Linked DNA regions of Homo sapiens. The protein of the gene in region 2 purifies or fractionates together with the protein of the main gene of each other region. This does not show direct contact. Each region holds a gene or a part of one and is shown on either strand. Other genes may lie near its edges. The genes, in order: TMUB2, RNF185, BRI3BP and AMFR.

What was found.
Region 1: the proteins of RNF185 (region 2) and TMUB2 purify together in Homo sapiens (affinity purification with western blotting; 3 studies listed by BioGRID and IntAct, with this or other methods). This does not show direct contact.
Region 3: the proteins of RNF185 (region 2) and BRI3BP purify together in Homo sapiens (affinity purification with mass spectrometry; 3 studies listed by BioGRID and IntAct, with this or other methods). This does not show direct contact.
Region 4: the proteins of RNF185 (region 2) and AMFR purify together in Homo sapiens (affinity purification with mass spectrometry; 3 studies listed by BioGRID and IntAct, with this or other methods). This does not show direct contact.

The regions. Positions count from the first base shown.
Region 1 is NC_000017.11:44,183,071-44,190,001, reverse strand, and holds the start of TMUB2 (transmembrane and ubiquitin-like domain-containing protein 2), read right to left. Parts: upstream 3,031-6,931; 5' UTR 2,893-3,030; intron 2,800-2,892; exon of another isoform or gene 2,327-2,799; 5' UTR 2,294-2,326; coding exon 2,259-2,293; intron 2,096-2,258; exon of another isoform or gene 2,001-2,095; coding exon of another isoform or gene 1,993-2,000; intron 1,068-1,992; exon of another isoform or gene 981-1,067; coding exon 414-980; intron 1-413.
Region 2 is NC_000022.11:31,198,155-31,205,190, reverse strand, and holds part of RNF185 (E3 ubiquitin-protein ligase RNF185), read right to left. Parts: intron 3,694-7,036; coding exon 3,576-3,693; intron 703-3,575; coding exon 605-702; 3' UTR 1-604. UniProt on the Homo sapiens protein: E3 ubiquitin-protein ligase that regulates selective mitochondrial autophagy by mediating 'Lys-63'-linked polyubiquitination of BNIP1.
Region 3 is NC_000012.12:124,989,014-124,996,651, forward strand, and holds the start of BRI3BP (BRI3-binding protein precursor), read left to right. Parts: upstream 1-4,631; 5' UTR 4,632-4,777; coding exon 4,778-4,990; intron 4,991-7,638. Other genes in the region: putative ATP-dependent RNA helicase DHX37, read right to left, coding at 1-9. UniProt on the Homo sapiens protein: Involved in tumorigenesis and may function by stabilizing p53/TP53.
Region 4 is NC_000016.10:56,360,952-56,366,545, forward strand, and holds the end of AMFR (E3 ubiquitin-protein ligase AMFR), read right to left. Parts: intron 3,155-5,594; coding exon 2,970-3,154; intron 2,106-2,969; coding exon 1,958-2,105; 3' UTR 501-1,957; downstream 1-500. UniProt on the Homo sapiens protein: E3 ubiquitin-protein ligase that mediates the polyubiquitination of lysine and cysteine residues on target proteins, such as CD3D, CYP3A4, CFTR, INSIG1, SOAT2/ACAT2 and APOB for proteasomal degradation.

The DNA.
Region 1 (6,931 bases), on a different chromosome or scaffold from region 2:
TCTCACTCTGTCGCCCAGGCTGGAGTGCAGTGGCGCAATCTCGGCTCACTGCAACCTCCACCTCCTGGGTTCAAGCGATTCTCCTGCCTCAGCCTCCTGAGTAGCTGGGATTGCAGGCGTGCGCCACCACGCCCGGCTGATTTTTGTATGTTTAGTAGAGATGGGGTTTCACCATGTTGGTCAGGCTGGTCTCGAACTCCTAACCTCGTGATGCACCCGCCTCGGCCTCCCAAAGTCCCGGGAGCCACTGCACCCGGCCTGAAGGGTGTATTTCTAAGAAAGTATCTACCTGCCCTTGGTAGGGGCTGGATCTTACACTTTGCTGCAGCTCCCATGTCTGCACCAGCCTCCTTAGAGGCAACCAAGGGCTGGGGGATGAGCACAAGCAGCTTCCCACTTCCCAGGCCACTCACCTCTTCAGGGCACCCACGGTATCCTCTGGCCTAGCCACAGCCAGCTCCTCGGTATCATTGAGGAATTTGAGCCGCACAGTGATGAGGCCAGGGCTGGGAGGGAGGCAGGTGCTATCCTCAGATCTCAGGGGGGCCTCTGGACTGCTGCTGCCTGCACCTGCTTGTCTTTTGGGCAGGCCTTGGATGTCAAGGAGATGCTCAAGGCTGGGCTCAACACCACCCCCAGCTCCAGCCTCCCCAGTGGAGTCTCCCCGACCTTCACCCGCCTCTTCAGCCTTCTCATCATTACCCTCTGATGGATGGGGGAGTTCAGTTGGCTCGGGGTTGCCTTGGCCTGCCACCAGGTGGTCCACATGCCCCAGGTGGAGGACGGATGTGTCGCCTGCTGACACAATAGCGCCCAGGAGCTGGTTGCTACCGCTGTCTGCTACGTAGGTAGAGAGCCAAGCTAGGACCAAGGCTAGAATCAGCACCACCACACCTGCCACCACCATCACCTCATTACCCACACCCTCAATGAGGGTGACATCAGAGAGCTCCATGGCCTGGCTGCTGGCAGGGTCCACGCTGCAGGAACAAAGGGGGACAGCATCAGCAGAGCCTGAGGGGTTGCAACCAGGTCTCTAGTTTGTTTAGGTTCTAACTGACCCAGCCCTGAAAAAAAAAAAAAAGGAGTTCAGTGTTGTGTAGAAGGGGGCACAAACCTTCCTAATTCCGGCACCCCAACCTAAACCTAAAGACCTACCCTACCCTTTGCCTCTATTGTGAAACTCTTGCTTTCACGTTCTGTGACCTTCCTCTCTCAAACTCCAACTTCCCAATGAGTGTGGATCAGCAGGAAAAGCCCACAGCCTTGCTGCTGCTGCTACTGTTGTTGCTTTTTTGGTGAATGAGGAAAAATCTTTGCTGAGGCCTGAGTTTCTCTAGGATTTCTATCGCTTGGTCAAGCAAATATGCCTCCTAAGCAGCCTCCAAAGTGGCTTCAGAGAGACCCAAAAGCCTGGAATATTTTACTGTGGGGCCCCCCTGGAAGCACTGTTTAGCCATCCCTGCCAGATTGTCTCATTTGAGCCTATTTCATTCCTGGTCACAGATCCAGGCTGCCAGATGTCAAGAGCCAAAGAAAACTGACCTACCATCAAAAGCAGAGTCAGACAAATCTAAAACGATAACTCTGTAGGGACCGCGGGCAGATACTATGCAGCAGACATTATGTGCCGCCTCTGAAACTTCTGGCAAGCCCTGGGGAGCAACTTGGGACAGACACCAGAAGCACCACCTTCCTGGGTCACCATGGGCCCACTCCTGCAATGACCACTCCCCAAGTGGAGTGATTTGAAAAAGATTCCATAACAGCTCTCACAATCCATATCTCAGTCTCTCTTCTTTCACTGTGAAGGTTCTGCTGCTGCAGTTTCTTAGAAAGGCAGGAAGGGTCCCTGCTTGCTCCTTGGAGTACCTACTATTTCCCTTGGAGAATCTGCTGCTTTCACAGCTGTCCCTGGGCAAATCCAGTCTGGTGATTACCATTATCAGACTATTCTCACAGCACCTATAAAACTTCATTATACTTATGTACCTGTCCATCTTTCTATTAGACTCCTGGTAGACAAGGATCGTATGTATTTCTCTTGGTACTGAAGTGTCCAATATAATGCCCCAGTAGTTGCTCAAAGAATTATCTGTGGAACACATCAACATCCTTATTTAATATACCGGCCCTGGAGTTAGAAAAACAACTAATTATAACCCCAGTCTTGCGTCTTACTAGCTATAACACCTCAGACAACTTTCTCAGAGCCTCAGCTTTCTCATCAGTAAAATGGGGTTAAAAACAGTACCTACCTCATGAGGTTGTTTTGAAGATGACGTGAAATCATCGAAGCAAAATACTTGGCACAGTGCCTGGCACACTGCAAATTGCAATTGCTTAATAACGGTAGTAATTATTTATCACAACCACAACTAACCCCTGATGGTAAGAAGGTTAATGTTATTAACCATGATTTACAGGAAAAGAAACTGCGGCAAAGAAAGACGAAAACGATTGGCACAGACACAGGGAACTCTCGTGGGGAGGGGCCCGGCAGGACCCCAGGTGTCCGGCCTCAGGGGTCTTTGCTCTGTCCCTCAGCCTGTGATCTACCCTGTCCGTACCGTGACCGCACGGTGAGGAGGGGTCCCGCACCCTTTTTCTGAGGCGAAGGTTCCGCTTTTGGATGGTCCTATTCCCTCGGCGTTGGACTGGGGTCCATGGGCCCACCCGAACCGAAGGGCTGCCTGGCCCCAGCCTCCGTGATAAGACCAGTTGTCCCGGCCAGTGAGGAGTAGGGTCGGCTAAGGGGGTCACAAACCGTCCACACCCCTCAAACTTCGGGGCGGGGCTGGGGAACTGGGGGCGGGGCTTCAGGACGCGAGGAGTCATGGGAAATTAAAGGGGGATTGGACCGGCACTGTGCCTGGATGGGGAAGTCCTCACCTGAAAAGACCAGACTAAATGTTTTGACCTCGCCAGGACGGCCCCTGGACTCGTCTTTCCGTAGGGGTCGGGAAAAGGGCTGGCAATCTGCGATTCTGTTCAGGGTCCGGTCTCTTCCGGCTTCTCCCGGAAGCTGTTATACCAGGGACAGGAAGTCCCGCCTCCGCGCCTTGCACTGATGACGCGAAGCTGCGTAAGACGGGCTGACGTAAAAGGTATTCTTTAAATAAAAGGGACAGGTTTCTCAGCGGAAGGAGGGGTGGAGTCATTGTTGGCGGGATTGCGGCCCTCCCAGAGCGGGGCCACGCCTGGTGGGCGGGGCCTTAGGCAATCCAGGGTGAGAGGCGGGGCCAGGGGGGAGGAGTTAGCGCGGAGGTACTTGGGAAAGGGGCGTGGCTTCGCGACTGCGGAAGGTTGCCCGGGCTGGCGCCGCTGGGCAGAGCCGGTGCGACGTTTCCCTTTCCAGCTTTGTTCTTCCGGCCCTGCTGTCTGCCTCCCCGGCTGATTGGATTCGTTACTGCTTTGCAACGCGCACCTAACTCCAGGTTAGCGGGGATTAGTAAGAACTCAGCTCTGGGCCAGTCGGGAAGACAGATAAGGAGACCAGTTAGTCAGCATCCAGTGCTTGAAGAGTGCGGCCCCAGGTAGTGTGGGACCCGGAGAAAGAAGGCGGGAAAGCATTTCAAAGAAGGCACAGATTCGGCGCAGGCTTAGGACACAAAAAGGGGGAAAAGTCCAGCTTTCAAGAACTTATCCAGATTTTTGCAGTTAAAATTTTTTCTTTTTTGAGACGGGAGTTCCGCTCTTGTTGCCCAGGCTGGAGTGCAATGGCGCGATCTCGGCTCACTGCAACCTCCGCCCCCCCGGGTTCAAGCGATTCTTTTGCCTCAGCCTGCCGAGTAGCTGGGATTACAGGCATGCGCCACCACGCCCCGCTAATTTTGTATTTTAGTAGAGACAGGGTTTCTCCATGTTGGTCAGGCTGGTCTCGAACTCCCGACCTCAGGTGATCCGCCCCCGTCTCGGCCTCCCAAAGTGCTGGCATTACAGGCGTGAGCTACCGCGCTCGGCCGCAATTAAAATTTTTTCTAAAAACTTACTGTGGCCGGGGGGAGTGGCTTACTCTTGTAATCCCACCGCTTTGGGAGGCAGAGGTGGGAGGATCGCTTGAGCTCAGGAGTTCGAGGCTGCAGTGAGCTATGATCTGAGCCACTGCATTGCACCCGACAGGGAGGCCTTGTCTCCAAAAAAAAAAAAAAAAGCGCTGGAGTTTGGGGTTTTGGAGAACTACTGATTAAAGGATAAATAATCCAGACAGGGGCAAACATAAGCAAAAAGCTCGGTGGCTTCTACCAACTGAACACTGGCAGAAGTAGCACTTAGATCAAGAAATAGATAATTAGGACTGGCGCGGTGGCTCACGCCTGTAATCCCAACACGTTAGGAGGCTAAGGCAGGCGGATCACAAGGTCAGGAGTTCAAGACCAGCCTGGGTAACATGGTGAAATCCCGTCTCTACTAAAAATACAAAAATTAGCCGGGCGTGGTGGCGCACGCCTGTAATCCTGGCTACTCAGAAGGCTGAGGCAGGAGAATGGCTTGAACCTGGGAGGCGGAGGTTGCAGTGAGCTGAGATGGAGCCACTGCACGCCAGCTGGGGTGACAGAGCGAGACTCTGTCTCAGGAAAAAAAAAAAAAAGAAAGAATTACCCCAGAATCTCCCCCTTCATGTCTTCTTCTAGCCATTAACCTCCAAAGAGTAATCACTATTCTGACGTCTGTCACCATACATTAGTTTTTCCTGTTTTTGTACTTGCTATAAATGGAATCCAACTGTGTATCCTCTTCGGTGTCTAGCTTCTTTTTTGTAAGTCCTTTCATTGTGGTAAAATAAACATAGCTAGGCACAGTGGCATGCACCTGTAGTCCCAGCTACTCTGAAGGCTGACTCAGCAGTGTCACTTGAGCCCAGGAGTTAAAGGCCAGCCTGGGCAACACAGGGAGACCTCTATCTCTAAAGATAAATATATACATATACGTAACATAAAACTTAAAACCATTTTAACTATTTTTAAGTTTGCAATTCAGTGGCATTAAGTACATTCACAAAGCCGGGCACAGTGGCTCATACTTGTAATCCCAGCACTTTGGGAGGCTGAGGCAGGAGGATCCCTTGAGCCAGGAGTTCAAGACCAGCCTGGGCAATATGGTGAGACCCCCATCTCTAAAAAAAAATTAATTAGCTGGGCATGGTGGCGTGTGCCTGTGGTCCCAGCTACTCAGGAGGCTGAAGTGGGATGATTGACCCTAGGAGGTTAAGGCTGCAGTGAGCCATGAGCCAGCTACTCAGGAGGCTGAGGTGGGATGATTGCTTGACCCTAGGGTCAAGATTGCAGAGAGCTGTGATCGCGCCACTATGCTCCAACCTGGGAGACAGAGTGAGACTCCGTCTCAAAATAAAAAAAAATGTAAAGGAAAATAATTGTCTTCAGCTGAGCATGGTGGCTCTAGAGTGTAATTGCAGCACTTGGGGAGGCTAAGGTGGGAGGATCACTTGAGTCCAGGAGTTTGAAACCAGCATGGGCAACATTGCGAGACCCTGTCGCTACAAAAAATTTAAAAATTAGCCAGGCCTGGCGGTGTGTGCCTGTAGTCCCAGCTACTTGGGAGGCTGAGGTGGGAGAATCATTGGAGCCTAGGAGGTCAAGGCTACAGTGAGCTGTGATTGCGTCACTGCACTCCAGCCTGGCATACAGAAAGACCCCGTTTCAATCAATCAATAAAAACCACTCTGGGAGATCTTCCCAAGGCAGTACACATGCTGGTCACTTGGAATCCCTCCCTAGTTCTTTCCTGCCATGGGTAATATGGATTTGTCTAACCACTCCAACATGAGTTGTTGCAAGCAACGCTGAGAGGAATATTCCTGTATGTAGCCTGCCTTTTGTGTAACTGGGAACAGTGTTTAAGGAAGTGGCCAAATTGCCCCCAAAGAGGCGATTTGTCCACCAACAGGATTTGCACACCTGGCCTTGTATCCTGATTTTTTTTTTTTTTTTTTTGGAGACGAGTTTTGCTGTCACCCAGGCTGGAGTGCAGTGGGAGATCTCAGCTCACTGCAACTTCCGCCTCCCAGGTTCAAGTGATTCTCCTGCCTCAACCTACTGAATAGCTGGGAGTATATGTGTGTGCCACCACACCTGGCTAATTTTTGTATTTTTAGTAGGGAAGGGTTTCACCATGTTGGCCAGGCTGGTCTCGAACTCCTGGCCTCAGGTGATCTGCCTGCCTCGGCCTCCGAAAGTGCTGGGATTATAGGCGTGAGCTATCGCGCCTGGCCTACTTTTTGTATTTTTAGTAGAGAAAGGGTTTCACAATGTCAGCCAGGCTGGTCTTGAACTCCTGACCTCAGGCGATCCACCCGCCTCGGCCTCCCCAAGTGCTGGGATTACAGGCGTAAGCCACTGCACCCAGGTATTTTTCTTTTTTAACGGTATCTTTTGTAGTTGTAAATATATCAGAAAAGGCTGAGCTGGCTGTGGTCGGCGTGCTGTAAAGGGGTAGAAAGTTCAGCATTGCCCCTGAGAGTGAGGCTCCCAGCCTCCCTCTCTAGGGAGGAGTTCTTTTTCTTCTGTCAGGCCTTTTGGCTCTGTAAAACTAAAGCACAAATTTTCATCCAGAAAGGGGGTGTTGCATTCTGCATAACAAGGTGAAAAAACTGTCTTTGTGTTGATGAAATGGAATCCCAAAGATATAACTCTCCTGGAGGAGGGAAAGTTGGGCAGCTGCAGCAGGAGGCAGACCCCAGGACTTTGGATCCCTGTCTCCACTGTATAACTCCAACTGGTATTGGGACTGGAGACCCTAGGATCCCTCAGCAAAAAGACTGCTGACTCAGGAGAAGACTGCTGGGAGCTCCTCCCCAGTTCCCTCCTGTGATAGGTACTATAGGTTCTGGGTCTATGAGAGGCTTTGTGTTTCTGTTATTTTTATTCATTTTTTTATTTTTTTTTGAGACGGGGTCTCACTCTGTCGCCCA
Region 2 (7,036 bases):
ATTCACGAAGTGACCCCAGCTTTAGCTACTGCAATTATGATTTTTATGGGACAGCAATTTCTTGCATCTCTACAGAGGAAGAAGAGGGGGAGTGGGAGGGGAAGGAAAGAGAACAGAGCGGCACTGGGATTTGAAAGGGGAACCTCTCTATCTGAGGAGCCCCCACTGGCTTCAGAAGCAACTTACCAAGGGGTATTTAAAGACATGAAAATTTCCAGAAATACCATTTGGTGCATCCCTTTGTTTCTGTAATATTAAACTCAGGTGAAATTATACTCTGACAGTTTCTCTCTTTCTGCCTCTTCCCTCTGCAGAGTCAGGACCTGCAGAACTGGCTGAAACAAGATTTCATGGTGTCACCCATGAGAGATGACTCAATGCCAAGGCCTGAAGTTATAGAGTGTTTACAGCGGTGGCGATATTCAGGGGTCATCGCCAACTGGTCTCGAGTTCCAAAGCTCTGATGAAGAAACAAGACTCCTTGATGTGTTACTGATCCCACTGATTCCAGGAGTCAAGATTAGCCAGGAAGCCAAACACCAGGAGTTGGGGTGGCACGTCACCAGTCCAGAGCCCTGCCACGGATGTAGGCAGGAGCCCAGCATTAGGCAATCAGGAGCCAGAACATGATCACCAGGGCCACAAATAGGAAGAGGCGTGACAGGAACTGCTCGTCCACATACTGGGGTGTCCCAGGGACAGCTGGAGAGACAGAAAGGAGAAAACAGGCTATTAGAACACTGCAGCTATGCACACTGCCCACTCAGGCCAGAAGTTGACAGCATCAATCTTTATCTCTTTACAACATCAGAATCCTACACACAAAAAGATTTCTTTTTTTTTTTTTTGAAATGTAGTCTCGCTCTGTTGCCCAGGCTAGAGTGCAGTGGCACGATCTCAGCTCACTGCAACCTCCGCTTCCCAGGTTCAAGCGATTCTCCTGCCTCAGCCTCCTAAGTAGCTGGGATTACAGGTGTGCGCCACCAAGCCTGGCTAATTTTTGTATTTTTAGTAGAGACGGGGTTTCACCATGTTGGTCAGGCTGGTCTCGAACTCCTGACCTTGTGATCCGCCTGCCTCAGCCTCCAAAAGTGCTGGGATTACAGGCATGAGCCACCATGCCTGGCCTTTTTTTTTTTTTTTCTTTTTGAGGTGGAGTTTTGCTCTTGTTGCCCAGGCTGGAGTGCAATGGCACGATCTCGGCTCACTGCAACCTCCACCTCCTAGGTTCAAGCGATTCTGCTGCCTCAGCCTCCTGAGTAGCTGGGATTACAGGCACGCACCACCACACCCGGCTAATTTTTTTTTTGTATTTTTAGTAGGAACAGGGTTTCACCATGTTAGCCAGGCTGGTCTCAAACTCCTGACCTCAGATGATCCGCCCACCTCAGCCTCCCAAAGCGTTGGCATTACAGGCATGAGCCATCGCGCCCAGCCAAAAAAAATTTCTAAACCCCAAATAATATCAGGCAAAATGAAACTATGTGGAACAATAACAATAAGGACAAGACACGGTCCAATTTATCATAAAAGGTTTGGCCTGCACATGCAAATAAACCAGGTGATTAACAGGAAACTCTTGCAGGAAATAATGAAAGCAAGCCTACTATTTGTTAAGTATCTTCTATCTGCTAAGTGTTTTGTACATGTTATTATTTGGTGGATATTATTATTTCCATTTTGAGTAGGAAGCAGCTGAAACATAGGTTTGAGGTGACCTGTTCAAGATTGAAAGGCTCAGAAATTAGTGGCAGAGCTCTGCAGCCTCTCCACACACTGCCTCTCAAGGGCCCCACAGGGATTGCCTTCCTTTTCCAGAAGAGAACTAGGATCCAGACAGGCAAAATGACTTGTTTTTCAAGGTAGAGGCAGAACTGGGGTGAGAACCTAAGTCTCCACTCCTCTCTGCTTTAGGAAAAGCTACCATTTAGAGCTCCCTGTCCTGACTTTGGGGGAAGGAGGATAAAAGAATCTGTGTCCAGGATGGGCAAATTGTACCAAGCATGACAAGGGAAAACTGTGACTGTGGCAGGGGGATAAAGTAATCCAGAGTCTAGCCTGGCTGTGGAACTCTGCTTAGCTGGGGAATCCAAGGTTAGCCTTCGACCAGGTTAGAAGGATGCAAGCTATCAGGCAGGTTCTTGCTGGCTTCACAGGAATTTGCCCTTTCTTCAGGGCAGAGTACACCCTATCTTTTGGGGTATACTTCCTCTGAAAAACAAATGTGAACAGAGGATAAACCTTCAAGGCAGATAAAGTAAGAAAGGGCATCCCCAGGGCCGGGCGCGGTGGCTCACGCCTGTAATCCCAGCACATTGGGAGGCCCAGGCGGGCGGATCACGAGGTCAGGAGATCGAGACCATCCTGGCTAACACAGTGAAACCCTGTCTCTACAAAAAAATACAAAAAAATTAGCCAGGCGTGGTGGCAGGCGCCTGTAGTCCCAGCTACTCGGGAGGCTGAGGCAGGAGAATGGCGTAAACCTGGGAGGTGGAACTTGCAGTGAGCCGAGATTGTGCCACTGCACTCCAGCCTGGGGGACAGAGCGAGACTCCATCTCAAAAAAAAAAAAAAAAAAAAAAAGGCATTCCCAAGATATCTTGGTGCTGAGATTCCTCAGCTAGATGCTCTGATGGATTCACGAAGACAGACAGGCAGGCAGGCAGGCAGTCAAGAAAGACTTATAGATCACCTGCTGTGTACCAAGGACCAGGGTGGGGATGAGAATAACTGGGATGACCCAGTTACCATCTTTAGGGCATAAGCTCTTGGCGTGAACCACACAATGGTCACTTCTGTACCATATGCTGTGTCCAGTGCACATGAAGCTCCAACAAGTGCAGGCAGAGCTCAACCGATCATGGCATCTCTGCAGGCTCCACAGTAAGGATCTTGGCTTGGGTGTCAGACTGTGATAAGAGTTCAAGGCACCCACCTCATAGAGGTGGCTTGCACCTATAGAGCAAGGGCTCTATACCGAATGCGGATGGCACTTTCAAGCAGTAGGAGGGAGAACTGCAGCAGCAGTTGGTAGACCTAGGCATGGTTCCCACAGGGCTGAGGCTGCTTCTGACCAGCCTCATGTTGTGTCCTGAAGGAAGCTAGACAGAGATGCCAGAGAATGGAGATGCCTTCACTCCTTATGGGTCATCTCACATTTCCAGGCCCCCAAATGGTCAAAGTGGGAAGTAAATGTGCAGAACTAGGCTTTTCCTCAGCTGAGTATCACTTACAGTTTTCCATTTTATAGACATGGGGTATGTCTTGGTAACATTACTGAGCATTTTCTGATCTGTTAAACGCAGCTAATCACACACCTGTTCCATAGGGTGGTTGTGATGATCCCCTGAGCTTGGAATGGAAAGTGCTATATATATGCATGCCTAATAGTTGGTAAGTGCTCAGCATTGTTACCATGTCTGTAAGTGATCTAAAAACAGCTTAAGATATTTTGAAAAGGCTGATTATCCATGTAGTGACAATTATCTGTAACTTATATACTGCTGAATTCCAAGGAGCTTTCAAGCAATATTACTAAGATATCTTCCTAATTTCTCAAGGAAATAGGGTCTTACCTGGAGGAGGCCGCCCATCATTTATATTAAATGCTGTGGCAAATATCCCAAAGGGAAATGCCCCAATTCCAAAAGACATCTGGAAGCCACCATCTCCAAATCCAAATCCTTGAAATCCCTGTGTGGAAGAAAGGCAATTAAGGGCAGGAGAATCAGGCAGGTTTCTCCTGTGCCTGTCAAAACTCAACATACCTCACGTTGTCTTGCATGTGGCACCTGCCTCTTCTCCCTACCTTGTGCCACATGTTTCGAAGGTGGGGGACAGCTTTTCCTCCCATATATACCCTGAAGTAGAGGAACTCTGGCAAGCCCTCTGCCCTTTTAGCCTTAGCTTCCAGCTAAGAATCTATGAATGGGCCAAAAAGGACTGGCTCTGACCCAGTGTGAAACACTCTGCTGACATAAGTCAGCACTCACAGGGCTTGAGGATATTTTCCATAGTCCCACATTAGCTAGTAACACCTTCTACATGCTTTATAGGAGCAATATTGACAGCCACCCCTGTGCCCAAGGGAACATCAAACAAGCTACACATTATCTTTAATAGCAAAAATGTTGAAACTCTAATTAGCCAACAATGGAAGTCATGATCAAAATCTTGATACATGCATTCAAAGAACCATTACCCTGACTTAAGCGGTAACACTGAACAACTCTTGTGACCAAGTTATCAGACAAAATTGTTTGAACACTGTGGTCACAACTACATGACAATATGTAGGTATATGGACAAGTTACGGATTAAAATTTCTTTTAATACTGTTACATAGAATTTTTACATTTTAAAACACTATAATGTTTTCTGGTTATAAAAGTAATATATACTTGCTATAAGAAACTCACATATTACAGAAATAATTGACAGAGTCAGAGATCTTCTATTCACCTTCCCACTTCGCAGCCACTCCACTTTACCTCTGAAATAACCACTATCAGCAGTTTGGTATATCACCCTCAGTTTTCTTTCCATGTGCATGTTCTACACTGCATCATCTTTCACATGAAAAGATTCAGCAGGAACAATACTGTGAATAAATAACTCCCTTTTTTAAAGCGTGAGCTCTGTGCTAGGCACCATGTTAAGCACTAGGACATATAAATCATGTTTAATTTTTACATTGGCTTCATCTGCATTTCACAGATGACCAAACTGAGGCTTGGAGAGGTGAAATAACTTGACCAAGGAGTACAGTTTAGATCTAAAACTAGGTCAATTTGATCTGAAAACACATGCTTTTCTTTTTCTTTTCTTTTTTTTTGAGACAGGGTCTCGCTCTGTCACCAAGCCTGGAGTGCAATGGTGCAATCATGGCTCACTGTAGACTCAACCTCCCAGGCTCAAGCAATGCTCCCATCTCAGCCTCTTGAGTAGCTGGGACCACAGGTGTACCCCTCCATGCTTTGCTAATTTTTAAATTTTTTGTACAGATAGGGTCTCACTTTGTTGCTCAGGCTGGTCTCAAACTCCTGGGCTCAAGTGATCCTCCCACCTCAGCCTCCCAAAGTGCTGGGATTAGAGGCCAGAGCCACTGTGCCCGGCCTTCATGCTCTTAATTACTGTGCGCATCTTTCAAATATTTTTTTCTCTTCCCCTGCACCCCTGATGAGAGGTTTAGAACAAATGATTTTAAAAATAATAAAAAGCAGACAGACTATTGGGTCAAATGCTCTTCACAAAGAGCTCAATGGCCTTCATTTATGAGTTTTTTGCAAGTCACAAAAATAGCTGCTCTCCATCACACACTGATCAGCCTGGCATCTAGTTCCAAACTTCTTGCCAGATGGCATCACCTATAAAGCCTAACAGCTGACTTAATGAGAGGGCAAACCTAAAGGGAGGGAAAACAAAGAGTTTCCATCTCCTCAATACAAAATGCCTCCTACTCAGTTCATGGTTGAATCTAATGGCTCCTGGGACTGAGGCTGCCTTACTTGGGAAGGTGCAATTGTTTCATCAGGAACCACAGATTCATTCAGTGCAATCCTGAGGACTAACCGTTCTGCTTCCCTTCTAGCAACATCTTTATGATCTCACCAGTCCATACATTTGGTGGGATTATGTTCCTGGGCCAGAGTATGCAAAAAAACATCGCTAGTAGCTGCAGGTGCTTATAAATGCTAGAGGTATGCACTTTGGTCAACAAGGCCAGGGCCTCTGGCTTCTGGGGGCCTCTGATTCCTGCATTAGTTGCTAATGCTCTGTAGGAAACCAAAACCTAGGAATGTTAAAGTGGTGTCACCTGGTGGTCAAGAGCAGAGACTTCAATACCAGCCAGATCTGGGTTTCAGCACTGTACGTGTGGCCCTGGACAGATCACTTTACCTATCTGGGCCTCAGTTTCCTCCTCCGTTAAATGAGTTGATGTGAGGCTTAAATGAGATCATGCATATAAAGCTCTTAACATATAGTTATTTCCATATAGTAACCATTCAACAAGTGTTCACTGCTAGTATTATTATTAAGGGTAATCCGGAGAAGAGAACCTTAATTTCTTTCTTTCTTTTTTTTTTTTTTTGAGACAGAGTCTTGCTCTGTCGCCAAGGCTGGAGTGCAGTGGTGTGATCTCAGCTCACTGCAACCTCTGCCTCCCGAGTTCAAGTGATTCTCCTGTTTCAGCCTCCCGAGTAGCTGGGACTACAGGCACATGCCACCACACCCGGCTAATTTTTATGTTTTTAAGAAAGCAGAGACAGGGTTTCACCATATTGGTCAGGCTGGTCTCGAATTCCTGACCTCAGGTGATCCACCCGCCTCAGCCTCCCAAAGTGCTGAGATTACAGGTGTGAGCCACCACGCCCAGCCGAGAACCTTAATTTCTTTCAAGATCCCTGACTCAATAATCCTACTCCTGGAAATCCTAATAAAATGCCATTATTCAAACTCAAAAAAAAAAAAAAAAAAAAAAAAAAAGAAAGTGGCAGTGCGCGGTGGCTCACGCCTGTAATCCCAGCACTTTGGGAGGCCAAGGAGGGCGGATCATCTGAGCTTGGGAGTTCGAGACCAGCCTGACCAACATGGAGAAACCTCGTCTCTACTAAAAATACAAAAATTAGCTGGGCATGGTGGCCCATGCCTATAATCCCAGCTACTCTGGAGGCTGAGGCAGAAGAATTGTTTAAACCCGGGAGGCAGAGGCTGTGGTGAGCCGAGATCGCACTACTACACTCCAGTTGGGCAACAAGAGTGAAACTTCATCTCAAAAAAAAAAAAAAAAAAAAAAGTGTGCAAAGATGGTTATTGTAGCATTATTTAAACAGCAAAATGGGGAAACAACTAAAAGGTCCTTCGATGAGGAAAACCCAAATTACAATGAACCAAAACTCAATGGGTTCCCAGCAATAGCATGGAAAAATAAAAAATAATAAAAAACTCAATAGGATAAATGGCAGCCTAAATAATAAAGAGGACACTTCAGAGCATCATGGAAAACCTGCCAAAATTAAATTTTAAAGCAAACAGA
Region 3 (7,638 bases), on a different chromosome or scaffold from region 2:
CTTCCCCATGGCGACTAGGCCAGGGTGGGCGCTCCAGCGGCCGGACCAGCAGAGCAATCCGAAACCCAGCCCACGTGGGTTCCCAGACCACCAACTCCGGCCGTGAGACTTCCGGGTTGTGTTATCGCGAGAACTGTAACTGACTTTGCCGCTGAGGGGCGGGGTTGCAAGAGAAACCCAGCGAAGAGGAGAGGCGGAGCCGGGCCGGGCAGGGGGCGGGACTATTTAGAGAAGTAGGCGGGGCCTGAGGTCCCAGCGGAGGCCGGAGTTTAAGTCCTGGGCTGTTCTCGCTTGGGGTAGTCTGGGTTTAAATATGAATTATATCTACTGATACTAATTTGGCTTCTTGGGAGTGGAAGTGTTTTGCCACCTTTTAAAATATACCCCGCCCCCAGTACTCCAAACTTCTTCCCCCCAACCCTGGTTTGCGCATCTGTATTTTCTGATATTCCTACAAGAAACGTATTAGTCGTGTACTTTTAAAAAGGCACCAAATATTTCCATCACAGGGATAGATGGAAGATCTAAAAGGAGGCCTCTACGGGCGCGGTGGCTCACGCCTGTAATCCCAGCACTTTTGGAGGCCGAGGCGGGCGGATCACGAGGTCAGGATTTCAAGACCAGCCTGGCCAAGATGGTGAAACCCCCGTCTCTACCAAAAATACAAAAAAAATTTAGCTAGGCCTGGTGGCAGGCGTCTGTAATCCCAGCTACTTGGGAGGCTGAGGCAGAGAATTGATTGAACCCGGGAGGTGGACGTTGCAGTGAGCCGAGACTGCACCACTGCACTTCAGCCTGGGCAACAGAGCTAGACTCTGTCTCAAAAAAAAAAAAATAAAGTTGTCTATTACATAACTTTAAATTCCCATTACCGCATCACATTGTAACACACTGGGAAACAATGCATTATTATTATTATTGAGACAAGGTCTGGCTTTGTTGCCCAGGCTGGAGTGTAGTGGAGCAATCTCGGCTCACTGCAACCTCTGCCTCCCGGGTTTAAACGATTCTCCTGCCTCAGCCTTCCGAGTAGCTGGGACTACAGGTGCCCGCCACCACCCCCAGCTAGTTTTTGTATTTTAGTAGAGACGGAGTTTCACCATGTTGGCCAGGCTGGTCTCAAACTCCTGACCTCGTGATCTGCCTGCCTGGGCCTCCCAAAGTGCTGGGATTACAGGCATGAGCCACCGCGCCCGACTTTTTTTTTTTTTTTTTTAAGAGATGAGATCTCGCCCTGTGGGCCAGGCCAGAGTGCAGTGGTGCAATCACCACTCGCTGCAGCCTTGACCTGTCCTCCCACCTCAGCCTCCTGAGTAGTTATGACTACAGGCACACACCACCACGACGGGCTAATTTTTCTATTTTTTTGTAGAGATGGTGTCTCCCTATGTTGCTTAGACTGGTCTCAAAATTCTGGGCTCAAGGGATCCGTTTGTCTCGGCCTCCCAAAGTGCCGGAATTACAGGCATAAGCCACTGTGAAGGCCTTAATGAATGACGTTTAAAAAAATCATAATTAGCGTATCAAATCTATGGGGTTTTTTGTTTGTTTGCTTGTTTTTGTTTTTTTGAGACAGAACTCTCCCTCTGACGCCCAGGCTGGAGTGTAGTGGAGCAGTCTCGGCTCACTGCAACCTCCACCTCTCGGGTTCAAGCGATTCTCCTGTCTCAGCCTTCCAAGTAGCTGGGATTACAGGCACCCACCAAGATGCCCATCTAATTTTTGTATTTTTAGTAGAGATGGGGTCTCACCATGTTGGCCAGGATGGTCTCAAACTCCTGACATCAAGTGATCGGCCCACCTTGGCCTCTCAAAATGATGAGATTACGGGCCTGAGCCACTGCACCCAGGCTCAAATCTGTGTTTTTATGGATTTTGTTGCTCAGGATGATAGTGATCTAAAGTTTCTTCTTTAAATATGTTTATTTAAATAAATTAAAAGTTTAAGAAACGTTTAAAAAATGTTAAGTAGGTAGTAGTACACTTGCCTATATTTCCTTCTAAAATATAATATATCAGTGAATTACCTTCCAGAAGGTATAGACCATTCTAGACAGCAAGAAGAAGGCAGATACATAACAGCATGGATGGATCTCACAAATATAAAGTTGAACAAAAGCTGGGCGTGGTGGCTCACGCCTGTAATTCCAGCACTTTGGGAGGCCAAGGCAGGCGGATCACCTGAGGTCAGGAGTTTGAGACCAGCCTGGCCAACATGGCGAAACCTGTCTCCACTAAAAATACAAACATTAGCCGGGTGTGGTGGCGCGTGCCTATAGTCCCAGCTACACGGAAGGCTGAGGCAGGAGAATCGCTTGAACCCCGGAGGCGGAGGTTGCAGTGAGCCGAGATCATGCCACTGCACTCCAGCCTGGGCAACAGAGCAAGACTCCGTCTCAAAAAATAAAAAATAAATAAAAAAAAAAGTTGAACAAAAGAAGCCAACCCCCAGAGTACTGTGTGGTTCATTTACATAAACTTCAAACACAGGCAAATGAATCCCCTAAATTTTAAGAGGAACATAGTGAATGGGAGGGGACAAAGGGAGGCTTCGTGGGGGAACTGGTAATGTTTCGTTTCTTGATTTGGGTGCTGGTTACCTTGGGTATTCAGTTTGTGAAAATTCATAAAAATTTATATGATTGTGTATTTTTCTGTATGTTATACCTTAATTAAAAAGTTTATTATTATTATTATTATTATCATTTTTTATAGAGATAGGTTTCACTATGTTGGCCAGGCTGGCCTCGAACTCCTGTGTTCAAGCAATCCTCCTGCCTTGGCCTCCCAAAACAAGCTTGTGCCACTACACCTGGCGTAAAAAAAGGTTTTTGTTTTGTTTTGTTTTGTTTTTGGGACGGAGTTTCACTCTTGTTGCCCAGGCTGGAGTGCAGTGGCTTAGTCTCGGCTCACTGCAACCTCCGCCTCCCAGGTTTAGGCGGTTGTCCTGCCTCAGCCTCCCGAGTAGCTGGGATCACAAGCAGGCACCACCATAACTGGCTCATTTTGGATTTTTTTTTTTTTTTTTTTTTTTTTTTGAGACGGAGTCTCGCTCTGTCGCCCAGGCTGGAGTGCAGTGGCACGATCTCGGCTCACTGCAACTTCCGCCTCCCGGGTTCACGCCATTCTTCTGCCTCAGGCTCTGAGTAGCTGGGACTACGGCGCCCGCCGCCACGCCCGGCTATTGTATTTTTAGTAGAGACGGGGTTTCACTGTGTTAGCCAGGATGGTCTCGATCTCCTGACCTCGTGATCCGCCCGCCTCGGCCTCCCAAATTGCTGACCTTGTGATCCGCCCGCCTCGGCCTCCCAAAGTGCTGGGATTACAGGCGTGAGCCACGGCGCCTGGCCTCATTTTGTATTTTTAGTAGAGACGGAGGGATTTCTCCATGTTGGTCAAGCTGGTCTCGAACTCCCGACCTCAGGTCACCCGCCTCAGCCTCCCAAAGTGCTGGAATCACAGGCGTTAACCACCGCACCCGACCTACAAAAAAGTTTTTAAAAAGATAAACAATACAGGAAAAAATGTGCAAAGGATATGAATAGGTAATTCACAGAGAAGTAATTCAAATGGCCAATAAATCTATGAAAATCTTACTAGGAATCCAGAAAATGTAAATTCAAAAATAAGAGCATTTTGTATTCTTTGGATTGGCAAAAATTGAGTTTTATTTTCTTGGTTGTCTAAAAAAAATGTTGGTTAGACTTGATTTGTTTGATTTAGGATGCAAACAGGGTCCTTGCATTGCATGGGTTATTATGGCTCTTAAGTCTTTAAAACCAATTATCCTCCTCTTCGCTCACCTTTTATACCAATTATTTATTGAACAAACTGGGTCGTTTGTTTGGTAGAATGCCCCACATGCTGGAGTTGGTTGGTTGCTTCTGCTGCTTCTAAGTTTTCCTTATCTGCCATATTTCCTGTAAACTGTAGGTTTGATCTAGAGGCCCCATCAGGTTCATGCTCAACTTGTCTTGGCAAGAATCCATCGCAGGTGGCGCTGGTACTTCCTGGCACTAAGATCGATTGGCGGGACCGGGACTTCGCGGCTTAGCCCCTCCATTTTCAAGTTCCCCGCCAAACCCTCCCCTCTTGGTTGTACCCATTTCTGATGATCATCGCGTGAATCCATCATTCTATTGAGGGGTGCCAAATAATTTTCGGATTCTCTCATTCATCCTCATGTATTAGCTGGACTTTGTAAAAGAAAGTCCCTCCCCAACTATTTTGGGGCTCTGAAATACAGTTCATTCAGGAAGGGCAGGAGGATGCCTGATGCTTTCTTGTTATTTAAAATTTTCAGGATGAATGAGCTGATGCCCACGAGGGCGAATTTTGGGGTACCATTATAATACATTCAGGGAGATTACATATATGTCTATTTCATGTTTTTCAATCAGTTGCAGTCACTTTCCTGGTTGAAGCTGTTGCAAGTTTTACAGGCACGGGTTGCTTTTCCACGGATAAGTTAAAAAAGAGAATTTTTTTTTAAATGATGAGAAGCCGCACCGGGTCGGGGCAGGCTTCCGGGAGGCGGGCGCGGGGCCCCGGGGCCGGGTCGCGTTGGTCCCGCGCCGGGGGCGGGGCGCGGCGTGGGCTGGGCCGTGCGCCTTTGCGCGCGGGGCGGGGCAGGTGGCGCAGCAGCGGCGGCGGCGGCTGTGGGTAAAGGCGCGGCGCGCGGCCCCCGAGCGCGCCAACCTTGCCCTAGCCGGAGCCCGCTGCGGCCCAGCGCACGGCCCTCACCCCGCATCGCGACCCCGCGCCCCGCCGGCCGAGCATGGGCGCGCGCGCCTCAGGCGGGCCCCTGGCCCGGGCCGGGCTCCTGCTGCTGCTGCTGCTGCTGCTGCTGCTCGGGCTGCTGGCCCCGGGCGCGCAGGGGGCGCGGGGCCGCGGCGGCGCGGAGAAGAACAGCTACCGCCGCACGGTCAACACCTTCTCCCAGAGCGTCAGCAGCCTGTTCGGCGAGGACAACGTGCGCGCCGCTCAGAAGGTGGGCGCCGGGCCCGCGCCCGCGGTCACCTTGCCCCGGTCGCCACGCACCTGGCTACCGGGGCCGACCTGGGAGGAGCGCGGCCTCCGGGGCTGCCCGCCCGGCCAGCGCGCGGGAAGAGGGGGTCCGGCCTGCGCCTCGGGGCCTGCCGCCTGCGGCCCCCGCCGGGCCTGACCAGTGCGGGTCTGGGCGGCCGGGCCTCGGGGCGCCCTCTCCTCTGCGCCGCGCTTCTCCTTGGACCTTGCCTCCGCGGTCGGCGCAGCCAGAGTCTCTCCCGGCTGCGCTGACGCCTGCCGCGCGTCTCATTCATTCATTCACCGCGTTTGAATGGCTCCTACTGTGAGCCAGGCAGCACACTGGCGCTCTCGGTCCCCACGCGGCTGCGCCCTCCCCAGCTACCCCGGGTTTGTCCTAGCCTCGCATCCCGACCCACTTCCCCTGGGACCTTCTGCCCCACTCCTCCTCCTGCTTTGAAGATACTTGGAGTTGTTTTTACTTTACAGGAAAAGAAGGGAGCAATGCGATTTGCTCGGTGGCTTTGGGAAACCGAGCACCTACTGTGTGCGGGGCCTTTCGCGTGGAGCCTTTTGTTTAGTTTGGGGAGGTCCCGGATCCTGCAGCCTCCTGGGAAGGGTGTTGAGTCCCAGGAGGATCGCAGGGGGTTTTCCCCAATTCCTGCTCTCTGGAGCTAGGTGCGATAGGGGTGCCATTCCGGGCCGAAGTCCGCCGACTAGCTCTTGAGAAGGAGGAAGTTACTGGGGACAGTTGTGTGTGGTATTGCGGTTCCTTTGCTGTTCCCTGGGGAGGAGGGGGCTCTTGCTTGCCGCCAGCCTTCCTGGGGTTTTGGAGTCAGAGAAGTTTGGGTTCAAGTTGGAGCTCTACCAGTTGGATGACTTTGGGGAAGTGACTTCACTTCTTTGAGCTTGTTTCTTTATTTGTTAAATGGGGATAGTAATCATTCCCCTTCATTGCGAGGTTGTAATTATGACTAGTTGGTACCTTCCTGGCCCAGAATCATGGCTAAAAAGTTAAAGTTTTCTGCTCATTGAGAGGGAGTGGGGAATAGAAGGGAATATGAAGGCCGAAATCAGATTGACTGCATGTTCTTACTGGATAACATGAAAGGTTAATTTGTTAGGAAAACAGTAAGTTTTGACCTCCCTCTCCTGTGGGCAGGGGCACCTCTTGCACAGGTGGGTCTGTGTCTTCATACATGTAGGGGAGAGAACGCTTTGTAGGTGGCCAAAGAGGGGCAAGGAAGCAGGGCTGAACGCCTGAATGTGAAAAGGTTGCCCTGGAGTCTGGCGCGGGAAAGGATCAGGGGTGTGAGTGCAGGGAGTCTCACTTACTTCCTCTTGATGCCGTTTCGGAGCTATTTGAAGGCAGAAATCATTTGTTTTAGAGCAAAAATAAGCCTGTCTTTTTCACGCAGGGTGACCACAGGATCCCCATGTCTCAACTGACGGTGGTTCCATGTGACAATCTAAGGCCAACAAACATGAAATACGAGTGGTTATTTAAGACTTTTACTTAAATAAGACAATCTGTATTCTGGCAGAGCATCTCCGAATCTGGGGGTCAGAGCTCTTCCTGGGCTAAACCGGGGTTTGTGCCTTTAATAGAGATACTAATGATTACTAAGTGCTTTTGTAGATAGAATAATCTTATGTAATCCTTAGAATGACCCTGTGCAGTAGGTACTGTTACTGTTCCCATTTGACAGATGAGGAAACTGAGACACAGAGCAGTGAAGTGGCTGGTTTCAGGTCAGATGAGTGGCAGAGCCAGGATGTGAACCTAGGCAGAGTGGACATGGAGCCCACATTAGTATCTCTCGCCTGTTTTCCTGCTTCATGACCCCTTCCCTGTTCCCCGAGTCAGTACAGCATCCAGAGGCTGACCTGACTTCTTTCCTTTTTGTTTTTTTGAGACGGAGGTCTGGCTCTGTTGCTCAGGCTGGAGTGCAGTGGAGTGATCTCGTCTCACTACAACCTCCACCTCCCAGGTTCAAGCGATCTTCCCCACTCACCCTCCCAAGTAGTTGGGATTACAGGTGTCCACCAGCATGCCTGGCTAAGTTTTGTATTTTTAGTAGAAAAGAGGTTTCACCATGTTGACCAGTCTGGTCTCAAACTCCTGACCTCAAGTGATCCTCCCGCCTCGGCCTTCCAAAGTGCTGGGATTACAGGTGTGAGCCATTGCACCTGGCCTGACTTATTTTATTTCCTGCTGAGTGTAGCCCACACTGGCCAGGCTTGGGGATATTGTTTTGTTAATTTTATGGGTTTTTTTTTAAATTTAATTAATTAATTTATTTTTTGAGACAGACTCTTACTCTGTCACCCAGGCTGGAGTGCGTTGGCACGATCTTGGCTCACGGCAACGTCTGCCTCCTGGGCAAGCAATTCTCCTGCCTCAGCCTCCTGAGTAGCCGGGATTACAAGTGAGTAGCCGGGATTACAAGTGAGCACCACCACATCCGGCTAATTTTTTATGTTTTTGGTAGAGATGAGGTTTCATCATGTTGGCCAGGCTGGTCTCAAACTCCTGACCTCAAGTGATCTGCCGACCTCAGCCTTCCAAAAGTGCTGGGATTACAGGCGTAAGCCACCGTGCCCAGCCTGTTTTGTGAATTTTAAATAAAGGAA
Region 4 (5,594 bases), on a different chromosome or scaffold from region 2:
GGTGTAAAATGGAAGGGCGGACTGAGAACTTCACTTCTTGCATCATTTTAAGCTACTTAATAAGCTCCTGCTCTAAACACTGTGATATGGCTGTTTTGTAATGTGTCAAGACCCTCTAAAATTGATCCAAGTAATTTTCTCTTTTCACACATCAGAAACCTGTGAACATGTGGAATTAGTGGCACCTACAATGGGTGCAACGTGTGAAGTATAATGTAATTCGAGGACAGTAAAATAATCTTTCGCTACACACTTACCTGAAAAAAAAAAAGATATAAATACAAGGGGAAGAAAAATGTAGTTCTGCCTTCCCCAAATACACTACTAGGAAAAACAAAAGTTCCCAATTCAAAAACATGGGAAAAAACCCTCCAACCAAAATAGTATACACAAAATCCAAATCAAAATGGGGTTTAACGTTGGCACCTCTGGAAAAAGATGCCTTAGCTTCCAGCCACACAAAAACATGCCTTAGCTTCCAGCCACACACAACACACCAATAGAGTTTGCTTTTTATTATTATTATTGTTTTACAATAAAAACAAATAGCTATGCTCTCAGCAAAACAAATTAAAAAAAAAAATCACAGAAATTTACTAACAGCATTTCAAGGTAAGGCTTTTGAAAGATTTATTGAAATAAATTATCTTTGCCTAAAAATTTACCTATCACCTTTTTCAATTACTTTTCAACATTCTAAAAACTTTCCGTTATGTAAAATACATTTAAACTTTGCCAATAATTGTGGATAATACTGGATTCTTCCCAAAAGGACTACCACAAAACAAAGCTTTCAAAGAGTAAAAAAAAAAAAAAAAAAAAAAAAAAAAAAAGTAATCCAATGGGGCATAAAACTGAGGTCTGTAACCTATGACTTCATGGTTCAAATCCTTAAAGTTAAACATGTGAAGAATTTGAAGAGATTTGGGACCTGGGCCCTCTCCAAGGCAGGTAGGTTCACACCTTACCTTCTCTGCTGAATTAAACCAGGAATAACACAGCTAGGAAAACGCAGTGCTCCCAGGATAAAAGATACAAAAGTTCTTTTTTATTTCTTTAATAAAGCCCTTCAAGGTTTACTCTCCCATCTTGCAAGGCCCACATCTTGTTCAAGGACCAAACCCACAGGCTTTAGCACTGCCTAATTTACTTCACCAATGAATGAAAACCATAAACCAAAGCTTGCTGCCTAACCACTCCCCAGGTCCAGACGGGACAAGGAAATGCTGAGAGGGGAGGGGACCCATGGGGCACACTCATGAGATGCAGGAGCACCAGAGTTCACGGAAATCAAGCCGGCTTTGGACTGGAGGCTCGGAAAGTCAGTCCCAGATGTAGTGGGACAGAAAGGGGTGACTTCATCACACCCTATAGCCCTGGACTTTCCCCTCCTCTGCTCCAGGTATCGAACCAAGAGTTCCTTTTCCAAGATGCCCTGCTGGCTCAGGGGTGCATGAGCCCGTGGGTCTGGCCTCTGGCACAGTCTACATGCTTCCACAACAACGACAGCAGTTTGATAACAGATGTTACCCCACGACGTGGGGGCGGGCTCACACTGTGCGCCTCCCCCACACTCTTCCCACTGGGTGTGGTGCTCAGGACACCTGCATTTGTGGGACGTACGCATGAGGCAGGAGTAGAAGCTGCCTGCTGCAGGCAGGCGACTGCTCACTTCCTCCTGATCGTCCCCCACCCCAAGCAGTCCAGTCAACACCAGAAGAGATCATACCTACAGTTAAAATTTGCAGTGTTTCTAAGGGGAAGAGAAATGTCACATAGAAAGTATTACAAAGAAGGATTAAATTTATCAGCTGTCCAAACACTATAAGACCACATGCTTTATACAGCGGCAATGCAGTCAAGCCCGCTTTTCCATGGAGCGGGCAGAATTGGGACAGGCCTCCTCCAGTCAGTCGGGCACAGGGCGCAGGAGGCAGCTGAGGAAGGCAAGGGAGCGCTAGGAGGTCTGCTGCTTCTGAAGCCTCCGTTCCGCGGCGGCAGCCAGCATCCTTCGACGCAGGGTCACGGGGTCAGAGGACGCACCTTCCGAGGGGAGGAAGCTCTCTGAGGCCGCATCATCTTCAGAACTTTTGTTCAAGAAACGTCTAGAAAAAACAGAAGACTTTTTCTCTCTCATAGGAGAGATGGGGAGCTGTGGAACACAGCCAGAAGGTTGATTTCACATCTCCCCATGTCCAGGCACCTTCATGAAGCTGTCACTCAGCACCACCCAATGACCAAGACATCCAGCCCCCAACAGATGGGCGCAAATTCTCTCTGCACCAGGGAGGAACCCTTCAGTGCTGTTCCCTGCTGTCTCTTCCTGCCCATCCCCTCCACCCACAGACACAGCACAGAACTCCCACAATCACAGGGTCTGCCAGGGCCCAAACCCACTTGAGGAACACAGTGCTGGCCCTGTCCTTAAGAGCTGGAACAAAACCCCCTCTATCCACAGGACACACCTGCTGTAGCTGCCACCAACCATGGGTGTGTGACGCACAGATGCGCTGAGTGTGTGTACAATGCTCAGCTGAAAGGCAGAGTGGTCAACAGGGAGGACCTGGGAGACAGACGCCAGGGCCAGGCCAGTGCTAACCTCTCCAGCCTCCATTTCTTCAGCTGTATGTCAGCTGAATGGGTTAACAGTGCTCCCTCTTAGAGCTGTTAAAGTAATTCATATAAAGGGCTTAGATCAGGTTAGCACACAAGTGCTCTCTCGGCAAGCGTGGCCAAAGGGGTCCATGGGAGATGACTGACAGTACCAGCATCAGAGGTAGACCAGTGGGGCCCAGTGTTACCAGATGCTCTGGTTTTTTCAAGAGAGGCTTGAAATCTGAGTTTTGGGGTGGCATGTAATGCCGTTTCACTGTTGGCATCTGTTTAAAAAGAGAAGACGGCCTGACAACGGCCTTCAGCCACTAGTTTTTGATCTGGATTATGCCAGGTGGTCTGGAGAAGCGACTCACTTGCGAGCTTGCTGGAGGAGTTCGTCCTTACGCTGCACCAGCATGCGCTGTCTCTCATCAGCAGACTTGGAGAAGCGGCTCCCACGAGCCTCGAAGTCTTCCACCTCACTGGGCTCCACTTCCACCTCGCCGAAGTCCAGCGTCTCCTCCAGGCGAGGACTGAGGTCCAGTGGCACACGCTCGGTCTGGACACGGGGCAGGAAGCAAGGAGGCAGCTGTGAGCACAGGCCTCCCTCCTAAGCAGGTTCCTCACCTACAGGGCACCCCAGACACGGCTGTTCTGGACGCAAAGAGAAGGCTGCTGCCAAGCAGGGAGGCAGAAACTAGGAACCACAAGCTACGGATAATGGAGCAGCAGCTTCCCTGAGGGCAGGCCTGCTGCCTATGGCTTGAGTAGTACTAAGAACAGGACCTGACTCACACAGAATGTTCGGCATCAGAGGGTAAGTAAATGATTACCAGCATGAAAAACGTAAGCACCTTCAAGCTGCACTCTTAGAATACGCTACCAACACGACAACCGTGAGTTTACATCCTGGGAATTTTCTGTTCACTTCTACTAATTGCTCAAACATTTAAACCAGTCTTATCCAATCTTCTGCACAAATTTTATATCCTCAATTGACTCTGAAAACAGAGGTAAAAAGGAAAACTGCTAGGCATCTATTTATTTATTTATTTACAGACAGGGTCTCACTCTGTCACCCAGGCTGGAGTGCAGTGGCACAATCTCTGCTCACCACAGCCTCAACCTCCCCAGGCTCAGGGGATCCTCCCAACTTAGCCTCCCAAGTAGCTGTGACCACAGGCTCGTGCCACCACATCTGGCTAATTTTTGTATTTTTTGTAGAGACAGGGTTTTGCTTTGTTGCCCAGGCTGGTCTCAAACTACTGGACTCAAGCAATCTACCCACCTCAGCCTCCCAAAGTGCTGGGACTACAGGCATGAGCCACTGTGCCCAGCCCTAAGGATCTTTTGAAAAGACACAGGATGGATTATATGGTTCCTTGGCTTTGGTTGAAGCTCCAAAGTCCACGACAATGCCCAGGCACCCCCAGGTCCTAGCAGGTGCCTGACCATCTGCGCTGCTCATGCTCCCAGATGCAGACCTGCGCTGGCCAGGGTCAGCCCATTGCCCGCTTCTAGGCTGTGACAGAATGGAGGTGGGTGCAGCTGAGAGGCAGGCTGTTTTACTTCAGAGTTCCTGCTGGACCTACCCTCACTTTTTCCTGCCTTCAGCTAAGCTCGAGAGGGAACTTCAAGAGAACCATTCGTATCCCCGAGAGTCAAAGGACGGGGGAACTGGTGGCTGCATACACTTGAGAAATCTACAGAAAGAAACTGGCAGGAGCCAATAAAATACAGGGCCAGGGGAGCTGTGACGGGAGCACGTTCACCTTCCACTGACTCCAGACAACACTGTGTGTGTCCTGGAGCTTGGATAGGGCTCCTGCAGGAGGGAACCAACCTAAGGTTGTTGAAAACAACTGTGCCCAAAAGGACCACTTGGAGAGGTAACAGGACCCCCATGAAGGTGGGAGTGGTCATCAATAGCCAGCCCAGGGTCAAAGGAGGAGTTTCTGGGGCCAGATGGGGACAGGGAGATAGTTGGCATAACATGTACACACACACACACAGACACACGTAGTTGGCACAACATGTAGGTACATACACACACACGCACACACACGCTGGAGTCTCACTGTCCTATTCTATCCCTCTCCTCTAAGCCTGACCCTAGAGCAGGTTAGAAAAAATGGTGAGTGAAGAGGCGAGATGTTAGAAAGAAAACAGCCGCCCACCGCAACCCCTGCTCTGTGCAGCTGCATGCCTGACTAATACCAGCCTGAGCGGGGCAGGGCAGAGATTAGAACAGAGGGAGAGTGGAGCTGACAAGCTTACTGGGCTACACTGAGGTTTCTGTTAACTAATTGTTATTCAAGGACTTTGTATTTCTTCACAAATGACCAAAAATGTTGCACAGCAAGGTTCCCTGTGAAATACATACTTTCCTCCATTATATATACATATATATATATAAAATCCAGAACTCTTCATGCTAACTCTAGAAGCAGCAGTGGAAAATCAAGACAGGGACTGAATATGCTGTACCCACAGATGCCCCCAAGCCCACAGCATCCATATCTCAGCTGCGCCAGCTATTCAAAAACTGGAGGCCGGGCGCGGTGGCTCACGCCTGTAATCCCAGCACTTTGGGAGGCAGAGGCGGGCGGATCATGAGGTCAGGAGATCGAGACCATCCTGGCTAACACAGCGAAACCCCGCCTCTACTAAAAATACAAAAAATTAGCCAGGCGTGGTGGTGGGCGCCTGTAGTCCCAGCTACTCGGGAGGCTGAGGCAGGAGAATGGCGTGAACCCGGGAGGCGGAGCTTGCAGTGAGCCGAGATCGCACCACTGCACTCCAGCCTGGGTGACAGAGCGAGACTCCGTCTCAAAAAAAAAAAAAAAAAAAAAAAACTGGAAATGTAGACATGGACCCCTTAGAAGCCATGCACCATTTCACAAATGATGCATAATCCAATTACATAGGTGGATATGAAAATCTTAACCCAGCAACAGATTTGAAGAAGGCCTAGTAGTGTTTACTGTTTCCTCTTTGTA